Linked DNA regions of Homo sapiens: region 2 is linked to region 1. Evidence: fine-mapped expression QTL. A gene starts in region 1. The other region holds a variant in brackets. All regions are shown on one strand. Distances are from middle to middle. Region 1 holds the start of LINC02798 (long intergenic non-protein coding RNA 2798). Region 2 overlaps LINC02798 (long intergenic non-protein coding RNA 2798).

Evidence for each region. PIP is the estimated chance that this variant, and not a neighbour inherited with it, causes the effect.
Region 2: its variant is fine-mapped to the expression of LINC02798 in aorta (GTEx, PIP above 0.99). The same link has a PIP of 0.9 or more in cerebellar hemisphere, esophagus muscle, gastroesophageal junction and subcutaneous fat.

What each region holds. Positions count from the first base shown.
Region 1 is chr1:121,391,232-121,400,994 of GRCh38, forward strand. LINC02798 (long intergenic non-protein coding RNA 2798) reads left to right here and starts at 4,341. Exons shown (of 2, transcript XM_047438024.1): 1 at 4,341-6,073. The coding sequence starts at 4,653. The coding sequence ends at 5,696. It overlaps SRGAP2C (SLIT-ROBO Rho GTPase activating protein 2C), which reads left to right. Exons shown (of 10, transcript NM_001329984.2): 10 at 1-1,643. It overlaps SRGAP2-AS1 (SRGAP2 antisense RNA 1), which reads right to left and starts at 6,674. Exons shown (of 4, transcript NR_104189.1): 1 at 6,532-6,674; 2 at 6,250-6,435. RefSeq lists a silencer at 4,418-4,712.
Region 2 is chr1:121,448,805-121,458,567 of GRCh38, forward strand. The region is part of intron 1 of LINC02798 (long intergenic non-protein coding RNA 2798); the gene reads left to right. Among named protein-coding and RNA genes, the nearest start is that of SRGAP2-AS1, 56 kb to the left of the region's middle. The variant T/G (reference allele first, on the strand shown) is at 4,029.

The DNA.
Region 1 (9,763 bases):
ATGCCTCATTCACGTACATGGGAGAGTCTACAAAGTCACACGTATTCATAGGTTAAGCCACATGCTGACAAATGTCATAAGAAGACCCTACACTTTTACCTTGGCCGATCCCTCCCCTCAGTGCAAGCTCTGTGCAAGAGTGAACTTGAACTTCACTCAGTGCAAGAGTGAACACACACTTTGTGCCGGCTTTAAAGAACCCAGCACAAAGCCAGTCTGCATGGCCTACAGACATATTTTGCTGGACAATGATTACTTGCTTTTCTTTTTGTTTTTCTTGTATATGCCTGTTTGATTGGTTCCTGACATACCAGAAAATCACTGTCAAAACATTAGCTTAACATTTGTTAAGGAAACAAAAAGACTTCGGTGACCACACCTTATAAACCAAACAGTTTTGTAAATCACTTTGGAAAATTTCACTAAAAAAAAAAATCCTTAACAATATAATAAGTAAAGAAAATTTAAAACCACAAAACATTACTGTGTTTGTAGGGGGAGGTCTGATTTACAGAGTAACCACATAGTAATTATAATTATTAGAATGTCCAGTTTTCAAAAAACGTTACAAGGCATACAAAGAATGGGAAAGTGTGGCTCATTCAAAGGAACAAAATAAAGTGACAGAAAATATCCCTAAGGAAACCCAGACATCAAACTTACCAGACAAAGACTTTAAAACAACTCTCTTCATTATACTCAAATGTCAAAAGGAAAACATAAACAAAGAAATAAAGGAATCAGAAAAAATATTAAAAAGTAGGAATATCAGCAAAGAGATAACAAATTCTGGAGTGGAAAACTACAATGATAAAAATTTAAAAATCACCAGAGGGATTTAAGAGTATATTTGCACACACAGAGGAAGCCATGAACTTGAAGAGAAGAAAATGGAAAATACTGTCTCTGAGAAACAGAAAGAATAAAAAATAAACAATGAGCAGAGACTAATGAATTTGTGGGACATCATCAAATAGACCAACATTCATATTCTAGAAGGATAAATTATGTTGTTAAAAAGTTTACCATTCTTTCTTTTCACCTTTCTTCCTTCTTCCTTCCCCCTCCTCCTTTTTACTTTTCTTCCTCTTCCTTTCTCTTCTTCTTTCTCGCCTTCATTATCCCTTTCGCTGTTTCTCTTTCTCCCTTTCTCTTTTTTCTTTTCTTTCAATTTTCTCAATTACTAAGAGATGTTTAAGTACCCTTAGCATGTTAGTAGATATGGTTATTTCTCCCTTTAGTTCTCTTTTGAGATTTATAGTCACTCAAATAAAGAGATAACCCAAACATAAGCGTCACAAACAGGCTTTCATACCATTCTTAATTTGGTCCTGTAATTCTTCATTGCTGTATTAATTTTCTGATGCTTTTAAGGATGTTTTATAACAAATTGTGTAGCTTTTTCCAATGGAATGTTTATTCTGAATTATCTAATTCATATTGTAAGTATAGAGGGAGTTTAATATAAAATTATTAAACTAATATTTGTGAAAGAATGTATTTGAGCATTTAACAAATATGTTAATCCTCAGACTGTTATTGGGCAGCTGAGCATACAGGAATAAAAATAACACAATTTTTATGTGTACAATATTTATGGAATACGTTACTGGACCCAATAAATAATTTAGTTAATAACATGACAAAGAACAGAAATTGTATACACTATAGAGCATAGTAATGGAATAATGAATGATTAAAGTTATTAATATTAGGTAGAAAATGAAGGGTATCTTTGAGAGCAGAATTCAAGGAAGCAAGCAATTCGCCTTATCAGGAAAGAGTTACCTGTGGATAAAGGAGAAACTGAAAAATTTACAAGTCAAGACTTTTTGAGCAAAAACAAAAATATGACTATTAGTCACCAATTCAGTACAGTGAAAAAAATGTTGAAGAGATATCTTGGAAGTAAACCATGTTGTGGAAGAGCATGTAGGGTTTTGATAATCATGGGATGATTCTGAATTAATTTTAAATGCGATAGGAATATATGAGATAATTTCACCAGAGAATAATATGATTGTGTTTGCATTTCAAAGGGGTGTATCTGGTGCACTGTGTAGAATAAATAGGTTATGTGAGCAAATAAATTGGGAGGCTACTCTAATCCAGCGAAAAAAGGTAGTGACTTAGGTGAGAATGCTGTCAGCATGAGTGGTAGTAGTGGTGAGAAGTCGTTAGGCCATGGATGTATTTCATAGGACTGGCCAAGAGAACTGCAGCTAAATTGGAGTGTAGGGAGTGAAATAGAGAACTCAAAGATGACTCTCAGCAATGGAAGGTGACAGCTGTCACTGAAGCATGCTGATGCCTCTTATTAAGAGAGTTACTTGGGAATGGCAAGATCAAAACTTCTCACTTTCAAATTTATGAAAAATATTGTTTTCAGAATGAGTGACTTTGGGATCAGAAAGCCACCATTCTAATTGATGGTTCCACGACTACACGGGCTCACACTCGCAAGAGCAAAAGTAAATCATCACAAAGGTGCTTCTTGATAATTCTAGAGAATGGAGAATTACTGTAACATCTTTCTGATTTTAGGAGAGGTAGCAGTTCCCTTTTTAGCCTAAACGCTATTTCTTTTTAAAGCTCAGCCAAGAGACTCCATTATAATTTTCAAATGTGTGTAACTTAAATTCTCATATGAAATACCACTATGCTTAAATTAGTCAAAACATTTTCCCCATCTACAACTCTATCTTGTCATTGTAATCATTTTCACAAAAGTGACTGCAGCTCTCAGACCCTAAAAAGAGAAAATCCAGGGTAGTTTATCTGATCTAGTTAGTTTCGAAGACAGGATCTAGAGATTATTTAATATGAAATGGGTCACCTGAAATGAAGTGTTTACTGAAAACAGCTTGGATCAGCCCAGTTTTCTACCACTGAACCATGCATTTGGTTTAAAAAACACAACAACTCTGGGGAATATCGGCTGCTTCCAACTGTGTTGAAGGTGTTAAAGAAAAGAGCATAAAATTAAAAATGATCATCTGAGGCCTTTATAGTCTCTGCTCAAGAGACTAGAGTTTTCCATTCTTAACTAAACACCCAAATATCTTAATAATTGGGCAAAATCTAAATATCAGAGATAATTTTATCTTGAAGATTGTTAAATTATAATGGTGATTCACTAGCTTGCCACGTCTCTGAGTCAAAAATTAGGTCTTTGTTTAGGAATCAATCATAATCTGCAATTTGGAAATAGGAAGATTTTAGAAGACTCAGACATTGACTTTCTTCTGTGCAAAAAAAAAAGACGTATTGAGATAAGACAAGTCTTTCCTTGCAAGGATACCTCTAATGCTCATACACCACCTCCCCTAACATTAATAGAGCTTCCAGGTCACTAACCAGTGTCAGAGAGCAGCCCATGCAACTAGAAATTCAAAAGATGTCGAACATAGGGTCAAGCTTAGAATAAGACGTCTTAGCTAATTAAGTATGCTTTTTTCCCGAAATTCATATTAACAAAATCTTGGATATGTCAGAGAATGCATTCTAAGTTCACTCAACCTAGGAGGGAGAAACATAATTTTAAATTAAGAGCTGAAGCATTCTTGTCCTAACACAAAGCAAGGAAAACGAAATATCACACCACAGGAGGGATTTCACAAATTTGCGTCAACATCAAAACCTTAAAATAGGCAAGGAGAATGCAGATTCACAATGAACTCTTGTACTTGTTTTGTTCAGAGGAGAGATGGTTCTGAGAGAATGACAGTGAACTAACCCCAGCTGGTTTAGTTGGTGCTTTCAACTACTGCTTCTGATCAACTCCTTTAGCTAGAATAAATTGATGAGGATTTTGGCATGTGGTATTAGAGATGGTTATTAATTTTTTCCTCTTATTTGCATTGTTCAATATAGTAAATACTAGCTGTATATGGCTACTTCAATTCAAATTAATTACAATGAAATATACTTAAATATTGAATTTCTTAGTCACTCTTGGTTCATTATTGAATATCTTCAGCTAAGATTTCCCAACTAAAGACACTAAGAGGTGGCTTAGTTAACTGGTCATCCACAAATATTGAAGCTGCTGTTAACTCCTGATATATTCTCTGCAAGGAGAATACTCATAAGCCTCCTCCTGAAATCAGCAGCCTAGAGATAGTTTTATAAACTGGATACAAGTTGGAAATCTATATACTCTTTAAGTGTTTGAAATATTAGCTTCCCAGGGAAGAAAATCAAATTCATAAGATATGCTAGGACAATTTAACTCAAGATGTTCAAAACTGAAATGACATATTCTACAACATGTGATAAAACCACCCCCTAACAACTTAAAGCAAAACAGGGATGGACCTTAAAGACCTGCCTTTTCCTCATCCCCCAGCCAATCAGTTTTCAAATCTTGCATTTTATTTTGAAAGGTCCCTATCCCCCTGGTCTCTTGTTTCTAGACTTGGCACATATTTAAGTTTGTTACCTCTCTCTACTGACTTTTCTCTCTTCAAACAGTATCTATGCCTGCCAAATGTGAACGTACAAGAAACAAATCAGAATGTGTCATTCTGATTTAAACTGCTTATTAGTTAATACCCTCAAGATAACATCTGGGTTCTTAGCTTCAATGAGTCAAGCCTACTTACATCTTTTTGTCTTTGGCTGCTCATTTCCTATCACATCGCACTCCAGCAATGCCAAGCTGTGCCGGCCTTCCACTCCATCTCCATTATTTCGCCCTCCACCGCCGCCGCCACGGCTTTTTGCCCCCCCGCCGCCGCGGCTTATTCCCCCCACCCCGCCTCGGCTTTTTGCCCGCCGCTGCTTTGTGCCCCCCCGGCGCCAGGGCTTTTAGCCCGCCGCGGCTTTTTGACCCCTTGCCGCTGCGAATTTTGCCGCCGCGGCTTTTTGTCCCCCGCCGCTTTTTGCACCCCGCCGCTTTTTGCACCCCGCCGCTTTTTGCCCCCCCCGCCGCCGCGGCTTTTTCCTCGCCGTGGCTTTTTCCCCCCTGCCCCCACGGCTTTTTACCCGCCGCGGCTTTTTGTCCCCTGCCGCCGCGACTTTTTGCCCCCCGCCGCCGCGACTTTTTGCCCCCACCCCGCCTCGGCTTCTTGCCCGCCGCGGCTTTTTACCCCCCGCCGCCGCGGCTTTTTGCCCGCCGCGGATTTGTGCCCCCCTCGCCGCCGCGGCTTTTTGCCCGCCGCGGCTTTCTGCCACACACCCGCCGCCGCGGCTTTTTGCCCCTCCGCCGCCGCGGCTTTTTGCCCCCACCTTGCCTCGGCTTTTTGACCGCCGCGGCTTTTTGCCCCACCACCGACACAGCTTTTTGCACACTCGTCGCCTTGGCTTTTTGCCGCCGCGGCTTTCTGCCCCCTCGCTGCCGCGGCTTTTTGCCCCTCCGCCACCGCCGCTGCTTTTTGCCCCACCGCCGCCGTGGCTTTTTGCCCGCCGCAGCTTTTTGCCATCGCGGCTTTTTACTCGCCACGGCCTTTTACCCGCCACGGCTTTTTGCGCCCCGCTGTCACGGCTTTTTGCCCCCCTGCCGCAGCGACTTTTTCGCCGCCGCGGCGTTTTGCCCCCGCCGCCACGGCTTTTTGCCGCTGTCGCCGCCGCTTTTTGCCCCCGCCGCCGCGGCTTTTTGCTGCCGCGACTTTTTGCCCCGGTCGCCGCCGCTTTTTGTCACCGCGACTTTTTGCCCCCGCCACCGAGGATTTTTGTCCCCGCCGCCACGGCTCTGAGGGCAGGAGCGGCAGACTCGGCTGCCAGCTCTACTGGCGTCCTGGCAAGGGCAGCGCCGAGGGGTGCTCCTGGTCCAGCTCTCCTGGCTCAGGGATTCTTTGCCTAGGCGCCGGCGCCCCGGGCTCCTTGCCTAGGCCCCTGTGGCCTGCATAGAGTGGCGCTGCCTGTGGAGGCGGTGGGAGAGAAGAAGGAGGGCGGTGGTGGGGGTGATGCGGCGGCCACGGAGGGTGGCACAGGGGCTGCGGCCAGCCGGGCGCTGCAGCAGTGCGGGCAGCTCCAGAAGCTCATCGTCATCTTCATTGGCAGCCTGTGCGGGCTGTGCACCAAGTGCGCTGTGTCTAACGACCTCACCCAGCAGGAGATACAGACCCTGGAGGTAAGGGGTTCGGGGACCCGGGCTGGGCTCCAGGAGCGGCCCGGACACCTCCTTCGGGGGCCCCAGTTCACTCCTGGCCGAGTTGCATCTTTGAGCCCACGTCACCCCCTTGGAGGCTTCCCCTCCCTCCTGCACTCGCTGATGCGGCAGCCAGAGGACCCAGGACCAGCCCTCACCTTGGGCAGGATTTGTGGAGCGGGTGCGTGGTGGGAACTGGGATGGAGGCTCCAGGGTCCCGTGGGGGTGGGGGTGGGCTGCGTGAGGACATCCCCTTACCCCCTGAATTTCCATCTGGTCCAGCCCTCTCATCTTGTAGGTGAGGAAACCGAAGGCCCGAGGGAGAAATGACTTGCCAGGAACCCCTGTTAAGGAAAATTAACAAAGTGTGGTTATTAAAGAAGAACTGAGTTGGGAGTCAGACCTGGAGGCCCGCACCCGCGGTTAAGACATTATACCACCTTGAGTCTGGCCTGTTGACTGAGGGTGAGCCACTCCATCCTCATGTGATTGTGGGGTCTTAACCTCAAGGGGTTTCCTGCAGGAAGAAGCAAATGGGTTTGCTTTCCTAGCTCTGTCCAGTACGTTAGGGACCCTGAGGACTGAAGAGATTCTTGGAGAGCCATCTGGTGTATGTCATGGGTGGGTCTTTTTGGAAGGTCAGTCTGCCCAGTGGGCTGGCTCAGCCCGAATGAACTGTCTTGAATCTTTGGAGTTGTCTGTGTACTTTTAAGGGCTTCTCAGCCTTGCACCAAAAGATCCCCCTGGAAATTAGGTGGGAAAAACCTTAACTTTTGTGGGGCCTTGTGTTTGTCTTAAAAGTTCATGCACATAGCCAGGTGTGGTGGCTCCCACCTGTTATCCTTTCCTGGATCCCTTGAGTCAAGGAGTTTGAGACCAACCTGGACAATATAGTGAGACCCCATCTCTACAAAAAATAAAATATTAGCCAGGGGTGGTTGTGCGCATCTGTAGTCCCAGCTACTACTGTGGCTGAGGCGGGAGGAGCACTTGATCCTGCACTGAGCTCTGATCTCACCAGTGTACTCCAGCCTGGGCCACAGAGCAAGACCGTGACTCAAAAAAAAAAAAAAAAAAAAAAGACAAGAAAAATTCTTCAAGATTTTGCATTCTGTCCCACTACCCATTGGTTTTCATGTCAAGATAATGTCAGAAATTCTTTACAATTGCTTCCAGAAGGAGTAGCCTTTTGATCTAGTGCACAGGTGTCCAGTCTTTTGGCTTCTCAGGGCCACATTGGAAGAAGAATGCTCCTGGGCCGCACATAAAATACACTAATGCTAACAACAGCTGATGGGGTTAAAAAAAAAAAAGGTTTGTGCATAATTTTCATGCTACCCACCACCACAGATAGGTGGAAAAGTCCTTGTAGTCAAAGGGCTGGACACGGCTGATCTAGTGTCTTGTCGTCCGTTTTGGCTTTCTCCCTGAATCCAGAATGCAGGTAGAGATGTAGAGACATGCTCTCAGGACAGCTGTTGAGATAAAAAAAATTCGTTGTCATTTATTCCCAAGCACAGCTGTTTCTCATTGCATTGAAAAAGTCTCCATTCAAACTGCTGTCACATATAAAATCTATTTATGTAAGTCTGTATTTTTCTGTTGTCTTGGCCTTTGTAGGCAGTAGTGTGTTTTAACCGAGCAAACTGTCCTTCCAAATAATGAAGCCGAAGTCAGCCTACCTACTTGCCATTTTTCTTCCCCTTCCATTTTTGTAACCTCGGAATAATTGTAAGAATGAATTAAGATTTGTGTTTAAGGCCAGGCACAGTGTCTCAGGCCTGCAATCTCAGCACTTTGGGAGGCGGAGATGGTTGTATCGCTTGAGCTCAGGAGTTGAAGACCAGCCTGGGCAACATACTGAGACTCCGTCTTGTATAATTTAATTAAAATTGAAAAAAAGAAGAGAAAAAGACCTGTATTTAAAATTTTAAAAAGGGGGGGAAAGTGTAATGCAAAATGTGGACTATGCGAGCTATGACTGGGAAAACTAGTTTTTCATACAGCATTATCTGTAGACTTGTATTAGCAGCATACTGGTCATAAGCGTTTTGCTTTCCTGAAATATGATGAGGTAAGCTAATTTAAAGTGTGTTGGGGCTTTCTGCCGCGTGGCTCCTGGAGGTGTTGAGTCCCAATTTAGCCAATTAATTTGGGTTTAGTTTTGACGTGGATAAGGGAGACCAGCTTCATTCATGGTGTACACACAGTTTTGCCAATAAGGAAAAAAAAAAGCCACCTGAATGTTCCTACTCATTAGATGCTATCTGGAGAGCTCCTACCCCACCCCCACCAAGGCCCGGGCCATTAAAAAGACTCAATGCAGCCTTTCTGTATCTCATACTGTATTCTGCAAGATACTCCTGTGAAAGAAAGTTGTGCTGCATCAGCCATCTCCCTCCTGAAGATCCCTGCGGATGAGGATTTGTGTTTTGAAAGTTCTGAGAATTCCTGCAACAACAATTCTCAAACTTATTTGTCCATGGGATCTTTTCTTCCACTGAATGTAGTTGGGGAGACACGGCCTTAAGCCTTGAGCAGAGAAAGAGACAAGAAACTGTCGGCTCACTTACAACCAAGTGTTGTGTTTATGTTTTAGGTTTTTATGAAACTGAGGTGCTGTTTGAGGTTCTAAATGAAATTGGGTGGTTGAAGAGAGGCTGGTATCCCTGTAGACTTAGCCAGCCATGAGAAGTTGCCTTTTGTTGAAGGAGGTGTTTTACAAAGGGAAATAGGGTGTCTCCTGGGCATCGCATTAGCAATTAAATACATGTATCACTGAAATGAAAAGAAATGATGAAATGATGAAATGAAATGATGAAATGAAACGAAATGATGAAATGAAGAAATGAAATAATGAGATGAAATGATGATGAAATGAAATGAAATGATGAAATGGAATGATGAAATGAAATGATGAAGTGATGACATGAAATGGTGAAATGAAATGAAATGAAATAATGAAGTGAAATGAAATAATGAAGTGAAATGAAATGATGAAATGATGAAATGAAAAGATGAAATGATGAGGAAATGATATGAAATGATGAAATGATGAAATGAAGTGAATGATGAAATGATGAAAAAATGAAATTAAATGATGAATTGATGAAATGAAACGATGAGATGAAAAGGTGAAATGAAACGAAATAATTAAATGAAATGAGATGAAAAGATGAAATGAAATTATGAGATGAAATGAAATGATGAGATGAAGTGAAATGATGAAATGAAATGATGAGATGAAATGAAATAATGCAATGAAAGATGATATGATGAGATGAAGTGAAATGATGAAATGGAATGATGAAATGAAATGATGAAATTGTGAAATGAAATGAGGAAATGAAATGGAATGATGAAATGATGAAGTGAAATGATGAAATGATGAAATGAAATGAAAAGATCAAATGGTGAAATGAAGAAATGATATGAAATGATGAAATGAAGTGAAATGATTAAATGATGAAATAATGAAATGAAATGATGAAATGATGAATTGATGAAATGATCAAATGAAATGACGAGATGAAAAGATGAAATGAAATGACGAGATGAAAAGATGAAATGAAATGATGAAATGAAATGACGAGATGAAAAGATGAAATGAGATGAATGATGAGATGAAATGAAATCATGAGATGATGAAATGATGAGATGAAGTGAAATGAT
Region 2 (9,763 bases), 58 kb after region 1:
CAAAAATTATCTGGGCATAGTGGCACGCACCTGTAATCCCAGCTACTTGGGAGGCTGAGGCAGGAGAATTGCTTGAACCTGGGAGGGGGAGGTTGCAGTGAGTCGAGATTGCACCATTGCACTCCGCCCTGGGTGACAGAGTGAGACTCCATCAAAAAAAAAATAAAAAAGAAAGAAAGAAAAGCAAGGAATGGGGACACATCTTGCTAGACACAATATAAGTACAAAGTCATGATAATAATAATAATGAAACCAGTGTGGTATTCATCACAGATGAAAGAAAGATGACATAACAGAGAGCTCAGAAATAGACACAAACATGCAGTTATAAACATGTGTGTTAATTTGATTTATAATAAAGTTGAACTATAAATGATTTGGGGAAACACAGTTTGGTAGATAGCATCAGAATATTGAAAAAATAAGTTAAGGCCATATGCCACACATTAAATTAGTGAAAAGTAGAATTATTAAGAAGGAAAAAAAATCATGAGAATATAAGTGTTACCTGGAGGTAGTGGAAAATCATGTTGAGTATGACCCTAGGAGGATAAACTATAAAGGAAAGAAGGAAGGAAGGGAGGGAGGGAGGGAGGGAGGGAGGGAGGAAGGAGGGAGAAAAAAAGAAATTATGGATTTGATTACATTACAATTAAAGGTTTATTTTAATGAAGAAATAGAGACAAAGTTAAACAGTTGTTGACTAATTCAGAAAAGATATTTACAATGTATAAAATAAATAAATATTCTAGATTGACATCTAGATTAGGGAAAGAATCCATGAAAATCAACATGGAAAAGACAGAAAATCCAGGGGGGAAGAAGAGGGCAAAGGAAAAAGTTTAAAACACTGACATTCCCAAAATTCAATACAATTTGCGGGGATATCCAGTAAGTCCTCACTTACTGTTGTCGGTAACTTCTTGGAAACTGTGACTTTAGGCAAAATGATGAATATTGGAACCAATTTTACCATAAGCTAATTGATATAAACAGGAGTTAAGTTGCTATTTCTGGCATATTTCTGGACACAAAAACATCACCAAATTTCTAAATAAAGGCCCCAAACACTTCTTATATTAAACATTGAAATAAATGTGAGCTATACATACGTATAAGAAAGATGAATAGAAACAAGTAAAGTAATTATTTACTTAATTTTTGGTGAATCAGTGAGTTACAGCAGTCATAGCGGTCATGGGTTAAATCAAAGAATAAATGTTGCAAAGTGAAAGTTTTAATCAGGACGTCCTACCACTATGCAGCTCAAAAACAATCACAAATATGGCTCCATGAGGGCTTTTGTACCTCACTGTTTATTGTCGAGCATTTGTAGGATTATTGTATAGTTTACTAATTTTTATTTTAAAATAATTTGTATTCATTCATTCATTCATTCATTTATTTTCTAACTTGCATATTCCAATTCAGGGCATGGGTGGCCAGAGTCTATCCTGGCAGGATCCAACCCTGGACAGGATGCTATTCTATCACAGGGCACACTCACATACACACCCACGCCAGCCCATCCTGGAACAACTTCGACATACCAATTAACAGAACATGCACATCTTTGGGACGTGGGAGGAAACTGGAATATCTGGAGAAAATCCATGCAAACATGGAGAGAACATGCAAATTCTGCATGGAGAGTGGTCTTGTGTGGGAATCCATTTGTTTTCTTATTACGGTTATTACAAAGTGACATTGAATTAAATGATGTTGTTCAAGGACTTGCTGTAAATGAATCTAAGAGGTGAGAAAAGTGATGGGTACAGGGATCAGGGATGAAAGGGGAAAGTCAATATCAACCAGCAAAGGGTCTTGATTGTGCTGATGATACTCTTCAGAGTATAACTAACTCAATTTTCTGCAACCAAATTTCAAAAAACTAAGAAAAATACAACAGTTTGAAATGAGGGATACAGAAAGCTCTAGAAGGATAGTTTTGTTTTTATATACAACATTAAATTCACATTGTTATGCTTACAAATACATGGAATGTTACTAATTTATTTTGAAAATCTATTACTGTTCAGGAAGTATTTTGAATAGAAAATCATCTCACGTACTGTAATAAAATACTTCATATTTGGGGCATTGGGCAGAAGGGACCTTGGATTATGAGTAAAAGGCAGGATGTTTTGTTTTGTTTTAGGAGAATTGATAGGTATTCTCACTGCATTTGTAGGTTGCTGCTAGGGGTGCAGGCGACCTGTGATGCAAACATTGGTTGTATATATGCATACAAGTGGGTTGCTCAAAAGATGCTAGGTACCTAAATGTGAAACCAAAAACATGTGAAACCAAAAACATTCCTAAGTAGCCACTATTTTGTATCCTCAATGTTTTTGTCTTTGATGTAGAATGAGTTACTACTAAGCCAATAAAAGTAAATGAGAAATGAAATCATATTTTGGTCAATTATATCATTCAGGAATAATAAACACTACTACAAAATAAAATTAAGATAATTTTTTACCCTCCATCTAGTTTTATAATTCGACAAATTCAGATTGCCTGAGAAATAATAAAATATTTTTAGCCATTGTGCTATTTTCATGATTTTATTAAAATGTAAATTCTCAGAGATCTGAGATATTCTGAATCTTTTATGCAGATTGCTTATGTTTTAAAATTTTCTCATCATCTTTTTTACAAGAATATATGCTTATAAAGAGATGGCACATTTATGCTGTAACAAAATGGAGTTATGGAATATATGGATAGCCCATTTCACAGTTAACTACTTCAATTTTATTTTTTTCAAGGAAACTGTCTCAGTTGTCCATCAATTAATTGATTAATCCAACAAACATTTTTGATCACTTCAACATATGTGGATATGTACTGAGCATTGGAAATTTTAAAAATACACACCATACACACACACACACACACAAATACACTATTCCCTGTTTGTGTAGAGCTTGCATTTAAGACGAGTTTTTAGACTTTAAATGAAAGAAAAAAAATTACCTTTCCATGACATTTTAACTGTTGATCCTCTGCAGTAAGCCAAATAAGCCTATTACATCTTCCACATGTGAACTTTTTAAAAATCTCATGGGTCACCAGAATCTTCCTCATATGACTATTATGAATGCACCCTCAGATCACATTTCATTTCCTCCATGACCTTCTTAAAATGCAATACCCAGCATTGAATGTAGATATTGTCTGCCAAATACAGTGAAATTATTAAATGTGAGAAAACAGGTAGCATACTTTCTTCTAAAGTAGCCTGGTAGGTGAACAACACAGTCAGTTCTTGTACCCATGGGTTCTGCATCTATGGATTTCATCAACCATTGATCAAAAGTATTTTTTAAAAAATGAGTGGTTGCATCAGTATTGAACATATACAGACTTCTTCCATTTGTCACGATTTTCTAAATAATACAACAGTATAGCGAACTATGTAGCATTTGCAATGCATTAGATATTATAACTAATCTAGAGATGATTTAAAGTATATGGGAGAACGTGTGTAGGTTATATGCAAATATTATGCTATTCTTTTTTTATGTTTTTTTCTTTTTCAACTTTTATATTAGAATCAGGGAATACATGTGCAAGTTTATTAAAAACGTGTATTACATGACACTGAGTTTTGGGGTATGACTGAACCCTTCACTAAGGTAATGGGCATAGTATCCAATGGGTAGTTTTTTAGCTCTTACTCCCTTCCCCTCTCCCCATTCTAGTAGTCCTCAGTGTCTGTTTTTCCCATCTTTATGTCAGCATTTATTCAATGTCTAGCCCTGCTTATAAGTTAGAATATGCAGTATTTAGTTTTCTGTTTCTGCATTAGTTTGCTTAAAATAATGGCCTCCAGCTGCAACCATGTTGCAGCAAATGACATGATTTCATTTTTTATGGCTGCATAGTATTCCATGGTGTATATGTACACATTTTCTTTACCAAACTGCTGTTGATAGGCACCTGGGTTGATTCCATGTTTTTGCTATTGTAAATAGTGCTGCAAAGAACATACAGGTGAATGTGTCCTTTGATAGACTAATTTA[T/G]TTTCCTTTGGGTATATACCCATTAATGAAATTGCTGCGTCAAATGATAGTTAAACTCTTAGGTCTTTGAGAAGTATTCAAACTACTCTCTGTAATGCATAGTGGCTGGGCTAATTTACATCTTCACCAACAGTGTCTGAGTGTCCTTTTTCTCTGTAACCTCACCAACATCAGTTATTTTTTGACTTTTCAACAAAAGCCTTTTGGACAGGTGTGATCTGGTGTCTCATTATGGTTTTGACTTGTATTTCTCCGATAATGAGTTGATTAGCACTTTTTCACATGTTTGTTGGCTGCTTGTATGTTGTCTTTTGAGAAATATCTGTTTATGTCCTTTGTCCAATTTTTAATGGGGTTATTCATCTTTTACTTGTTGATTTCTTTAAGTTTATTATATATTCTGGATATTAGGCTTTTGTTGGATGCATAGATTGCAAGTATATTCTTTCATTCTGCAGGTTGTCTGTTTACTTCCTTACAGTTTCTCTTGCTGTGCAGGAGTGTTTTACTTTAATTAGGTTCCACTAATCAATTTTTGTTTTAGTTGCAATTGCTTTTGAGGACTTAGCCATAAATTATTAGCCATCGCTGATATCAAGAAGGGTATTTCTTTTATTTCTGTTTTCTGATTGCTCTGGCTAGGACTTCCAGTACTATGTTGAATTGGAGTGGTGAGAGTGGACATCTTTGTCTTGTTCCATTTCTCAAAGAGAATGGTTCAGCTTTTGCCCATTCAGTCTGATGTTGGCTGTGGGTTCGTCATAGATGGCTCTTGTTATTTTGAGGTATGTTCCTTTGATGCCTAATTTGTTGAGAGTTTTTAATCATGAAAAGATGTTGGAGTTTATCAAAAGCTTTTTTTGCATTTTTGAGATGATCATATGGTTTTTTATTTTAATTCCGTTTATGGAGTGAATCACATTTATTGATTTGCATATGTTAAACCGATCCTGCATCCCAGGGATAAAGCCTACTTGATTGTGATAAATTAACTTTTTGATGTGCTGCTGAACATGGTTTGCTAGTACTTTGTTGAGGATTTTTGTGTCTATGTTCACCAGTGATATTGGTGTGAAGTTTTCTTTTTTGTTGTTGTTGTGTGTCTGCCAGATTCTGGTATCAGAATGATGCTGGCTTCATAGAATAAGTTAGGGAGGAGTACATCCTCCTTGATTTTTTGCAGTAGTTTCAGTAGAATTAGTACCAGTTCTTTGTATGTCTGGTAGAATTCATTTGTGGATCTATCTGGTCCAAGCCTTTTTTTTTGTTCGTAGGTTTTTTTAAATTACTGATTCAATTTTGGAACTTGTTATTGGTCTGTTCAAGTTTTCACTTTCTTCCTGGTTCAATCTTGGGTGGTTATGCATGTCCAGGAATTTATCCATTTCCTCTAGGTTTTCTAATTTGTGTGCTCAGAGGTGTTCGTAATAATCTCTGAGGATCCTTCGTATTTCTGTGGGATCAGCTGTAATGACATCTTTGTCATTTCTGATTGTGCTTATTTGGATCTTCTTTCTTGTTAATCTAGCTAGTGGTCTATCAATCTTGTTTCATCTATAAAAGAACAGACTTTTGGTTTCATTAATCTTTTGTATAAGTTTTTGCATCTCAATTTCATTCAGTGCTCTGACTTTAGTTAATTTCTTTCTTTTGCTAGCTTTGGGGTTGGCTTATTCTTTTCTTTCTAGTTCCTCTAAGTACACTGTTAAATTGTTAATTTGAGATCTTTCTAACTTCTTGATGTAGGATTTTAGCACTGTAAACTTTCCTCCCAATACTGCTTTAGCTGCATTTCAAAGATCAGCAACAACAAGTGTTAGCAATAAAAGTTGTTGCTTCCTATCTGCTCTTCAGATCTGCCAAATGTCTCCCTTGTGGTCCACCCTAACATACAATTAAGGGAATGCTGGAAAATGTAGTTCAGCACAGTCAAGTAGACACATTAAAGCCTAAATAGTAATGATATACAGTTGTCCCTTGATATTCATTGGGGATCGGTTCCAGGCATATCTTCGTTATACCTTTCTGTAATTATTTATTTACCTATCACTCCCAACAGCAGGACAGTAATATCTTTGATGAAGAAACAAAGCTTAATTCCATTTTGTATTTTCTATGGAATCACAACTCTTGGCACTAAATAGGCATTCAATAATTATTTACTGAATGTACAAGCTTAATTTAGAAGGAAGAAAGGGAATTTAAGAGATGAATGAGATAGCATGATGGTTAATATTAGGTGCCAACGTGATTGGATTGTGGGATGCCTAGATGGCTGGTAAAGTATTGTTTCTCTGTGTGTCTGAGTGTGTTTCCAGAAGAGACTGACATTTCAGTCAGTGGACTGGGAGAGGAAGACTCACACTAAATGTGGGTGGGCACCATCTAATTGGCTGCCGGCCAGCTAGGACAAGGCAGGCAGCTCTCTTTTTTCTTTCCATGCTGGTTGCTTGCTTCTGCTCTTCCTGCCCTTGGACATCATACTCCAATTTCTTTGGTCTTTGGGCTCTGAAACTTGTACCAGCAGCTTCCCCAGGGCTCTCAGGCCTTCTGCCACAGACTGAAGGCTGTACTGTTGGATTCCCGGTTTTGGGGCTTTTGGACTTGGACTGAGCCACTACCAACTTCTCTCTTCTTCAGCTTGCAGAATGCCTATTGTGGGATTTCACTTTGTAATCATGTGAGCCAATTCTTCCTAATAAACTCCCTTTTATATATACATATATCCTATTGGTTCTGTTCCTCTGGAGAACCCTGACAAATTACAGATGGGAAAATGTGTGTTAGGCAGTGGAAGCAAGGAAGGAGCAGGAAAAATTGGGCCAAATTAGAGACAAACTCAGTACTATTAAATTTCCTTTAAGAAATTCATATTACAGATGTATATAAGTAGGCAACTAAACCAATCATATTGGACCTTCAGAAGTTTCAATAAAATGCCATAGAAACATGATAGTGGGAACCTCTCACCCTTGAAATAAATACTTATTTTAAAAGGCCTAAAATGCTGTTGTTGGCCAGTTGTGGGGGCTTATACCTGTAATCCCAGCAATTTGGGAGGGTGAGGCGGGATCGCTTGAGTCCAGGAGTTTGAGACCAACCTGGGCAACATGGCAAACCTCTGTCTCTACAAAAAATAGAAAAAAATAGGCAGGCATGGTGGCGTGTGCCTGTAGTGCCAGCTACTTAGGAGGCTGAGGCAGGAGGATCATTCGAGCCCCGGAGGTCGAGGCTGCAATGAGTTGTGATCACACCACTGTACTCCAGCGTGGGCAACAGAGTAAGACCTTGTCTCAAAAAAGCAAAAACAAAAACATGGAGTTATCTTCTTTGGTATTATATCTGGTTTTGAACAGTTTGGTACAACTTTTATATGAGCTGATAAGTCATATTTTTCATTCAAAAAATTATTCAAATATTTACTTTTGTTCTATTAAGTAAATATTTTTAATACTGATTTATTTATTTTCATTATTTCTCTCTTTTATCTAGTATTAATTTTTTTGTCATATAATATGCCTGGAGGGAGGGAGAAAAACGGGGGAAAGAAGATGGAGGGAAAAAGGGATGAAGGGAAGGAAGGAGGGAAAAATTTTACATTTTCTTCCCAAAGATTCTGATTAAGTAGATCTGAATTAGACTGTACTTACAACTGTGCTTGTAAGACATTTCAAAAATTGATTTTGATGGGCAACAGGTTGGAGAACTGTCAACTAGAGGACATGGTAATGAATTGATGGTCAAATGAACATGCCCAAAACTATAAAAAATACTATCTGTGAGTCTGGTATAAGCCACTAATCTACTATTTGAATATTAGTGACACCTACAGTTGGGATTGCACCAACAAACATCTGTCCTGGTCTGGATCACATTTTACTGCTGTCCTCTGTTTCACCTGTAAATCAAATACCAGTAAATATTCTGACTTGATGGGTGTTCAGCAAACCGCTGTTTTTGAAAAGATGTTGATGTTATAATTTTATAGTTTCTTAATGTCTTTGTCTGCAATTAAAACAATGTGGAGTCACCAAGAGTTTATCAATTTATCAATTATTTTGCTGTTGATCCATTTATTTTCTGTGTTAATCAGATCATAAGCTTATAAATACAATAGTATACATGAGAGAAATGTATCAACAAGGGTTGCTCTTAAAAAAAAAGAATATTGTGAAAACTGGGTAGGTATGGGGTAGTAATGAGGAGAAGGATCTCTTCAAAGGCAATAGAGGTGGCTCAAAATTGGAAGTTAATTTCCATATTCTCACACCCTCGCCTCTGTTCCAACACCAAGATAAAATGCTGCTGGCTGCTTATCTTCACAGATACTGTCAGCTTTTAGAGTTGTGCTATTTGTCACTATTTCTCACATCAAGAATAACCTGGACTATTGCTCTGAATTATTCCATAACAAAATGTAGAAGATAGGAAAAGTCTAAGAAAAACAACTATACAAAATCTGAAGTCACAAAAATTTTCAAAGTCAATACTGACTTGAATACAATGTAGAAGTGTTTAAGAAGAACATTATGTACTCTGAGTCTTGATTTTTAAGCCAAATTATTACAGTTGGTTATAATGTTAAAATTATACCTAGCTCCAGTGGTTACATTTTGAGATGCCTTTATTTTCAGTGGTTTAACATTATTTTCTAGTAAAATATCTTTAAAAATCAACCAATATGAGTGCTTCACTAATATGTAGTTTTCAAACTATTGTGTATTTTTGCTTTGCCTTGTTTGGGCACATAGTTTGATTTAAGAAAGGAGTTGAATTAAGCTCAGGTTTTGATCTTAGCCTGAGAAGGTTAGAGTTCAGATGGAACAGCCACTGTTATTTGAAAGGATTATGTTGCAATTTTAGTACCACTACAGGATTCATATGCAGAAAAGTTCTGATAATTTTGAAGTAGTATACATAGTTTCATATTTTAAAGAGTGATACACACTGAATTGTGTTATTTTGTGAGGAATCTGGACTTTTAGTCAAATATTTCTAATATTTCTAATTTCATTTTTTGTGTATACATATTTATTAAATTGAAAATTTTGTCATATACATGAATTTGAAATTATATATATATGAACATATACATACATATGTATGTGCATTTGTGTATGACTTGAAATGAATTTGTGTATTTTAGGGCAATCTCATGTGCTTTCCATGCCATGAGGGCATTACTGTTCTGTTCTTTGAAATTTTCTGAATATTCTTTTCTGCAGACAAAATGGGATTGAGGAAAATACTCTAGACAAAGTACAATAAAGCATTTTAGAGACTAATTATAATTTAGTCCAGTAAAAGGTAGAAAATAGATAACTACAAATAATCCTAAAACCTGATGTGCAATAGTATGCGATTATCTTAATATAATGTTGATGAAATTCCCCATTAGATGGGAATATAGGGAAAATACAATTTTATATTCCAAATACATTTATATACAATGCAGAATGTAGCAGTATAGCTATTTGATGGATATATGTAATATAGAAAGTTAAATATTATAATTTTGATAACATAGTTTTGCATTTACTTCCCTTAAATTTAGTAGTAGATATATAAAGTGCAGAGCCTACCTAATAGGGAATAATCAGTAATTGCATATATGACACACACATGCTTGAGTGCACACACAGACACACACACACACACACACACCTCCACAGTGTAAGAACCAGGCTGTATTTGCAACCTTGGGAAATTTAAACTTCAGAGAAAAATGTGGCTGT